Linked DNA regions of Homo sapiens. The protein of the gene in region 1 interacts with the protein of each later gene in a biochemical or structural test. Each region holds a gene or a part of one and is shown in the gene's direction. Other genes may lie near its edges.

Evidence for each region. The genes of interacting proteins can lie anywhere in the genome.
Region 2: the proteins of EPS15 (region 1) and SNAP91 form a complex in vitro, tested with the Homo sapiens proteins (one study listed by BioGRID).

What each region holds. Positions count from the first base shown.
Region 1 is NC_000001.11:51,358,570-51,362,314, reverse strand, and holds part of EPS15 (epidermal growth factor receptor substrate 15), read left to right. Parts: intron 1-959; coding exon 960-1,144; intron 1,145-3,745. UniProt on the Homo sapiens protein: Involved in cell growth regulation. May be involved in the regulation of mitogenic signals and control of cell proliferation. Involved in the internalization of ligand-inducible receptors of the receptor tyrosine kinase (RTK) type, in particular EGFR.
Region 2 is NC_000006.12:83,707,299-83,711,043, reverse strand, and holds the start of SNAP91 (clathrin coat assembly protein AP180), read left to right. Parts: upstream 1-1,942; 5' UTR 1,943-2,199; exon of another isoform or gene 2,200-2,804; intron 2,805-3,086; 5' UTR 3,087-3,116; coding exon 3,117-3,246; intron 3,247-3,745. UniProt on the Homo sapiens protein: Adaptins are components of the adapter complexes which link clathrin to receptors in coated vesicles. Clathrin-associated protein complexes are believed to interact with the cytoplasmic tails of membrane proteins, leading to their selection and concentration.

The sequences.
Region 1 (3,745 bases):
ATGATCTTAAGTGTATAATTTCATATATCTGACCCTTGGCTATTAAATGTTGGCAGTAATTCTAATTTTGCCTACTTTCACAGGATTATTGGAAGAATCCATTGAGATATGAGCATCTTTTCTAAGCAGCTACAGTGATGGAATCTGTTGTTATGATTGCTATTACCAGCTTATGCATTTTAGGAAAAAAATATATTTGGAGATATTTTGACCCCTATTTTTATTATCTTTTCTTCAAGAAGTACTAAGTTTAAGTAAGACTTAGAGAACTTGTTTGAAAATGGTAATGAATTAGTGAGTGACTAATAGGACAGAATACTATTGTTTGGTCAGAGATTATTTGATCAGCAACCGCAAAGATTTAGGCCCTGGGCTTCAAAACATTTTTTCTTCATTTTGAAATACAGTAAATAACAAAAAATTGGCAGCATTTTACTACGGTAATTTAAAAATTTTATGCTCTTAGGTATTGTATGTAGAACTAGAGAAAAATCAGAAGAATTTTCCCAGTTTTCAGAGGTCATTTGCTCTTACTGCCACTAGTGGATAACTGTTATCAGGCTGAGGGCTGTAACAGCAGAGGCAGGCCATTTCTGTCTTTATTCTTTATTATTCTCCTTCTGTTTAATCCATTCGTCTCTCCTTTTGGGAACATGCTGCTTGGGTGTGGCTAGGGGATGGTGGGATTCAGTCTTTGGACAAAAATATGATTCCTGGCCCATCCTTACTTTGCTATTTGTTTCATTAGCTGCACATAGCTGGAATCTATTTGAGAGATCATGTGTGAAGAATTTGAGGACAAATTGTTGGTGTAGCTATTTAAGACAATATTCAGAATGTGTTTTAGGTACTCAATCATCCTCTACCCACAGTACTTTAATGCTATCTGTGTACATGTTCTTGTGTGCTTGTATTTGCTGTATTTACTGGTTGAATTAATTGTAATGATTTTGATCCAGGGAAAAGATCCATCAACAAATTGGATTCTCCTGATCCCTTTAAACTGAATGATCCATTTCAGCCTTTCCCAGGCAACGATAGCCCCAAAGAAAAAGATCCTGAAATATTTTGTGATCCATTCACTTCTGCTACTACCACTACCAATAAAGAGGCTGATCCAAGCAATTTTGCCAACTTCAGTGCTGTAAGTACTGTGAATGAGCTGTTTGGGGGAGAAATCTTTAAAGAGTTTTCAGAGATTATTTTGGAGTCTGCCAAGTTTGCATCATTTTAACTAAATTTACCAAGATACTAAAAATGATCTTTCATTCTTCCCCCAAGCAAAACCTCTGTTTGATCCTGTTTTGACAGTTCTACGGTTGTTCCATCGCACAGATGATTTTAGTAGTCCCAGTTCTTGTCATATACACAAGTTGTTTTGTAAATCTTTCTCTTAGTCTTGGTAATGTAAGTAAAATCCTAACAGTTATTATTTTGTGGATGGTTATGGGTGATGGTGATTTAATGAACAATTACAGAGTCATTGCTCTCTGCCCACTAGATGAATAATGCCAGTAATAAGTTTGTGTATTTGCAGCTGTGTATGTGTGTTTGTGTATAAAGTTTTAATGATTTCTGGAGACCAGTCAGCAAATATTATATGAGAGGATAGAGCCAGAGATTCTTTGAATAGAAAGTAAAACTATTAAACTTACACAGTAGCTTTTTAAAAATGTAAATGCCAGTTTTATGAAATAAATAAATAAATGGTTGTCAGGATTTAAACAATCTTTATTTGGAGGGCCCTAATTCACTAACTTCTCATGTTTACTCTGCGTTCTTTCAGAGATGTCTAAAATAGGAAGATCGTTAGAAACAGTGGAAGGGTGCCATGATAACAGCATAAGCAGGGCCTATAAAATCACAGAAATGGGGCAACCAACCATGGAGGTATCAGTCTAGAGAGACATAAAGCAATGTCATATATTCCATCATTATTCAGTAAAAAAAGTTATTTTTTAATAAAATTCTTAGACCGGGTAACAAATTTTCAGTTTCACAGTTTTTTCAGGCAAAATAACCTTCGTTATCATTGCCTGTTCTATAAAACAGAGATTTTCTTCTATTTATCACCTTATGCCCTTGAGATGATTTTGGAAATAGATCTAGTGGCCAGGTAACTCTGCCTAATATTTCCCTCCTCAGTGTAGCATTGGGCCATTCAACCAATTGCTTTATTCCTGCAGCTGTTTCTAGTTAGAAGGGAGGTAGTCAAGAATCTGCATGCAGGCCGGGCGTGGTGGCTCACGCCTGTAATCTCAGCATTTTAAGAGGCCAAAGTGCTTTAAGCACCTGTAGTCCCAGCTACTTGGGGGGCTGAGGTGGTGGAGGTTGCAGTGAGCTGTGATCATGCCACTGTACTTCAGCCTGGGTGACAGAGCCAGACCCTGTCTCCAAAAAAAAAAAGAATCTGCATGCAACTAAGACGACTGAGCTCCCAGCTTTTGAATCTGTACTCTAAGTTCTGGTGGCTTCTCTTGACTATGAAGGAGCAAAATAGGAATCAATATTTTGAATATTGTAAAAATGGAGTGCCAGAATTATACTGATTTTTTTTTTTTTTTGAGATGAGTTTTGCTCTTATTGCCCAGGCTGGAGGCGCGATCTTGGCTCACCACAACCTTCACCTCCCAGGTTCAAGCAATTCTCCTGCCTCAGCCTCCCGAGTAGCTGGGATTGCAGGCATACCCACCACACCTGGCTAATTTTGTATTTTTAGTAGAGACGGGGTTTCTCCATGTTGGTCAGGCTGGTCTTGTACTCCTGATCTCAGGCGATCCACCGGCCTCAGCCTCTCAAAGTGTTGGGATTACAGGTGTGAGCCATCGCGCCCAGCCTTACTTAACTTTCCTTTTTTTTTTTTTTTTTTTTAAAGACAGAGTCTTGCTCTGTCGCCAGGCTGGAGTGCAGTGGCGTAATCTCAGCTCACTGCAACCTCCACCTCCCAGGTTCAAGCAATTCTCCTGCCTCAGCCTCCCAAGTAGCTGGGACTACAGGCACGCACCACCACACCTAGCCAATTTTTGTGTTTTTAGTAGAGACGGGGTTTCACCATGTTGGCCGGGATGGTCTCGATCCCTTGATCTTGCAATGTGCATGCCTTGGCCTCCCAAAGTGATGGGATTACAGGGGTGAGCCACCGCATCCAGCCCGACTTAACTTTCATTAGATGGAATTTGATTTGTTTCAAGCAGAGAATCAAAAATTGGCCTTTTTAGAAGGTTATAATTCTCTTAGTGTAAAATAACCCTCTGGTAGTTTGTGGCATTTAATATCTTAAGTATGGTTTTAGCAAGTCAAACTCTTGTTGGGGCCAGACGGGGTGGCTCACACCTGTAATCCCAGCACTTTGGAAGGCCGAAGCGGGCGGATCACTTGAGGTCAGGAGTGTGAGACCAGCCTGGCCAACATGGTGAAACCCCGTCTCTACTAAAAATACAAAAATTAGCCAGGCATGGTGGCGCATGCCTGTAATCCCAGCTAGGGAGGCTGAGGTGGGAGGATCACTTAAGCCCCAGAGGCAGAGGTTGCGGGAGCTGATATAGTGCCACTGTCCTCAAGCTGAGTTACAGAGCGAGACTCCGCCTCAAAAAAAAAAAAAAAAACAAAAAAAAACAAATCTGGTTGGAAGGAGTCTTGAACAACAGCTGAGGCATTTTGCTCCAAAATCTCAATATAGTATAATAAAAAACAGCTTATAATAAGAACATCTTCTTTTTTCATTGTGAAAGATGTGGTTAAGCAT
Region 2 (3,745 bases), on another chromosome or scaffold:
GAAAAGTGCTGAAATCCTGAAGTATAATTGTGGATTTGCCTGTTTCTCCTTTTAATGCTATTAGGTTTTGCTTCGTCCTACTTTGAAGCTCTGTTCTTAGATATACAAACAAGTAGAATTGTTCCATGCTCTTAATGAATTTTTCATTATGAAATGTGCCTGTTTATTGCTATTAATATTCCTTATTGTAAAACCTACTTTGATATTAATATTGCCACTCCCAACTCTATCAGATTATATTGAGGTATAATTAACAAACAACAAAATTCGCCAATTTTAAGTGTACAAATTGATGAGTTTTGAGAAATACATGCAGCTGTATAATCATCATCACCGTCACGATATAAAACATTTCCATCTCTCCAAAAAGTTTCCTTCTGCCCCTTTGCAGTCCCCTCCCCCAATGCCACCGTCACCTGACTCGGCACCTGATGTGTTTTCTGTTTCTATAGTTTTGACTTTTCCAGAATGTTACATAAATGAAATCAAAATAATAAGTAGAATTTTTGATAGAGCTTCTTTCCCTTCGTCTAATGAATTTGAGATTCATGAATGGTATTAGTTTGTTTCTTGTTATTGCTAAGTAGTATTCCATTATGTGGATATACCATATTTTGTTTATTCATTTACTAGTAGAATAACATTTGGCTTTCCTCCAGTTTGGGGCCATTATATTAAGCTGCTATAAAACTGGAGTACAAGTTTTTTTAATAGAATTGCGTTTTTATTTCCCTTGTAAATATGGTAAGACTAGTACTTGAGACAATAGTGCTCTTAAGCTGTCTCTCTTTAGTCATTAAGCTTCCAATTAGTCCTAGAATCAGTCTCAGTAGTTAGGAAATCATGACTGCATACTGAACACTGTACCAGGTGAAAGAGAGGAATATATAACAAAACGTTGAGATCGATAGGTATCGATATATGGCTTCAAGGCCGAGCAGAAGCCACCCGAAGCAAGGAGAAAAAATGCCAGGAAAGCTCACAAATATAGTTTTGATCTTCATGCTACTGTGAGAATTAAAAAAAAAGGTGAACATAAATAACAACCTTTGAAAATGTCAACACGTGAAGCTATTAACCAACTCCACATCCCTGTTTAGAAATTCCTGCTTACTATTCGAATATACACTTGACATACAATTGACGGACGTTCCAACACTATATTTAATTGGCAGAAATTACTTCTTAAGGGTACAAAGGGTTTTCTTTATGCACGCAAATGATTACTGTCGAAGGTAATCTGGGACTCGATTAACGGCTGTGTTAATTATTCTCCCTTCAGCAGACCTCAGTATCCGTTTAAGACTAAAGTGGCTAGAATTACCTGCCCACCCGGGCTCCCAGTTGTAACTGAGACAAGCGGAGGAGCCTGAGGAGCTGAAGACGCACAGGTGACGGTCGCGGATGGCCGGCAGGATCTGACATTTAAAATCGCCCTGCTCATCTGGGCCTCGGAGCCTTTGACAGGCGGGCGTGTCAGCGACAGTGTGGGGAAGGGGCTGGGCTCCGCCAGGCAGCGCGCGACGACGCCCTTGCCTTGGCCTTCACAGAGTAGAACCCGAGAAGCCCACTCGCCCGTCTTGGCCAACGCCCCCAACGCCCAGGGCTCCCCCCGCAGTCGGCGGGCAGGTGTGCGTGGTGCGCGAGCCCAGTGCGTGCCGGGTGCGGCGCCAGCAGCGGAGGGGCGGCCCGGCGCCCAGCGGAGAGCCGCTGGCTGGGTGGGTGTCGGCCTCCCCGCCTCCTTCTTCTCCCCGCCGGCTTGCCGGGGATGCTTGCGCGAGGCGCCCCCTCGCCTTTAAGCTCCCGGCCCCGGGGGGCGGTGTGTGTGAGTAGCTGGGAGGGGGCCGCGAGGCGCTCCGCCGAGGGCTCGTCCGGGTTTGTCCGCCGCCGTCACCTGACTCGTCGGAGGAGCCACAGCTGAGGTGGGGGCGGGGATGGGGACGCAGCTCGGAGCGCTAGAGAGACGCGGCGGCGCTGGCAGAAGAGGCGGCGGCGGGCGGGTACTGGCTTCTGGGGCCAGGGGCCAGGGGCGGTGGGCGCCGGGACCGCGGAGCTGAGGAGCGGGGCCCGGCCAGGGCTGGAGACTTTGCGCCCGGGGGCACCGGGGCTACGCGCGGTCGCACACATCCACCGGCGCGGCTTCCCTCGGCGGCCCGGGCTCCGCTCATCCTGCGGCGGGCGGCGCCGCTCAGGGGCGGGGTGAGTACCCGCGGCCGTACTCGGCCCCCTCCCCGCGCCAGGGTCTCGCGGGGATCCGCAGAGGATAATCCCAGGGTGCGGAGAAGGGCAGCGGCCGAGTGACAGCTCCGCGGAGCGCTCCAGGGCGGGCGGGGGACTGGGCTTCGCTGTCAGCCCGGCTCCTCTCCAAAGCCAGGAAGGGTGAGGCGCCCCAAGACTCCGGCGCCTCCGCAGAGCTCCCGGGCGGCCCCTGCGGCAGGGATTTGGAACCGGGGGGAAGGGGCCCGGGCGATGGGCCTCGGCGAGGCTTTGGAGCCGGCGGCGAGGAAGGAAGGGGAGGCGAGGGCATAACATGGCGCAACGCTAGGATAATCTCCTTCGCGACTGAGGGAGGACGAGCCCTTTGCTGCAGCAGCGCGAGGAGGAGGAGGGAGGCAGCCAGGGCTTGGGTATCCGATGCATTCCCCGAAGCCTGCGGGCTGCTAGGAGGAAAGTCTGCTGAGGTGGGAGATGGGCACCGGTGGGTGCGGCGCCCAGGGAATAACCCCAACGCACGTTGTGGCTAGTCCAGCACCCGCGGGTCAGGTTGCGGGGAAAGTGCTGATTGACAGGGGGGTCCCCAGGGGGTGAGTCTGGCCCTATGTGGGGGCCGGGGGAGAATGGGGACGGTGTCACGATGCTGCGACTGGAGCCCACGCTGGGGTTCCGTGACGGCCCTACTCACGGCCAAGACTCCCTGGACCGCATCGCAGGAGCGGGGCTTGGCGCGTTGCTGGCTCCGAGAGGTGGTGCCAGGGTGGGGATGGAGGAGGAGAGAGCCGCCGCGCGGCTGGAGGAGGCAAGGCCTGGGTGCTTGGAGGGTAGGGTCTGCGGATTAAAGCCGGACCGTCTCCCCTTGTTTCCTGCAGAAGAGGAGGCGGTAGACGCGACCACAGAAGATGTCGGGCCAAACGCTCACGGATCGGATCGCCGCCGCTCAGTACAGCGTTACAGGCTCTGCTGTAGCAAGAGCGGTCTGCAAAGCCACTACTCATGAAGTAATGGGCCCCAAGAAAAAGCACCTGGACTGTAAGCATCTCTTTATATAAGAGGGACATGCGCACGGCAGAGGCGCCTGGGATGCTGGTGGTGCGGCCTGCGCTCTTGGTCCATAATGCTGTGGCCTCTGATACTCCCAGCCAGGTTGCCCCTGAGCTGAAATTCTTCAGCTGTGAAGGTGTTCCCTTGGGTTAGCCATGAAACCTTGTCTTGTGAGCCATTTTTTCCTCTTATTGACCTCCAAGGTCTTGGTGGAGGGGGAAAAATACACACACACACACACACACACACGCATATGTATATACACACACACAAGAGAGAGATTGTACACACTGAATTAGATGTTTTTCACCTTTTTTTCTTTCTCCACCCACCCTCCCTTCTCCAAATTAGAGGAAATTAGAGGTTGCACAGTCAAAAAAAAAAAAGATGAATTTATGGAAGGTCAAACTTGTCACCCTAGTTCTTTCCTAAATACATTTCAGATAGTTCTAAGGTAGTATAATCTTTTTAAGTGTTGCTCCTGAGG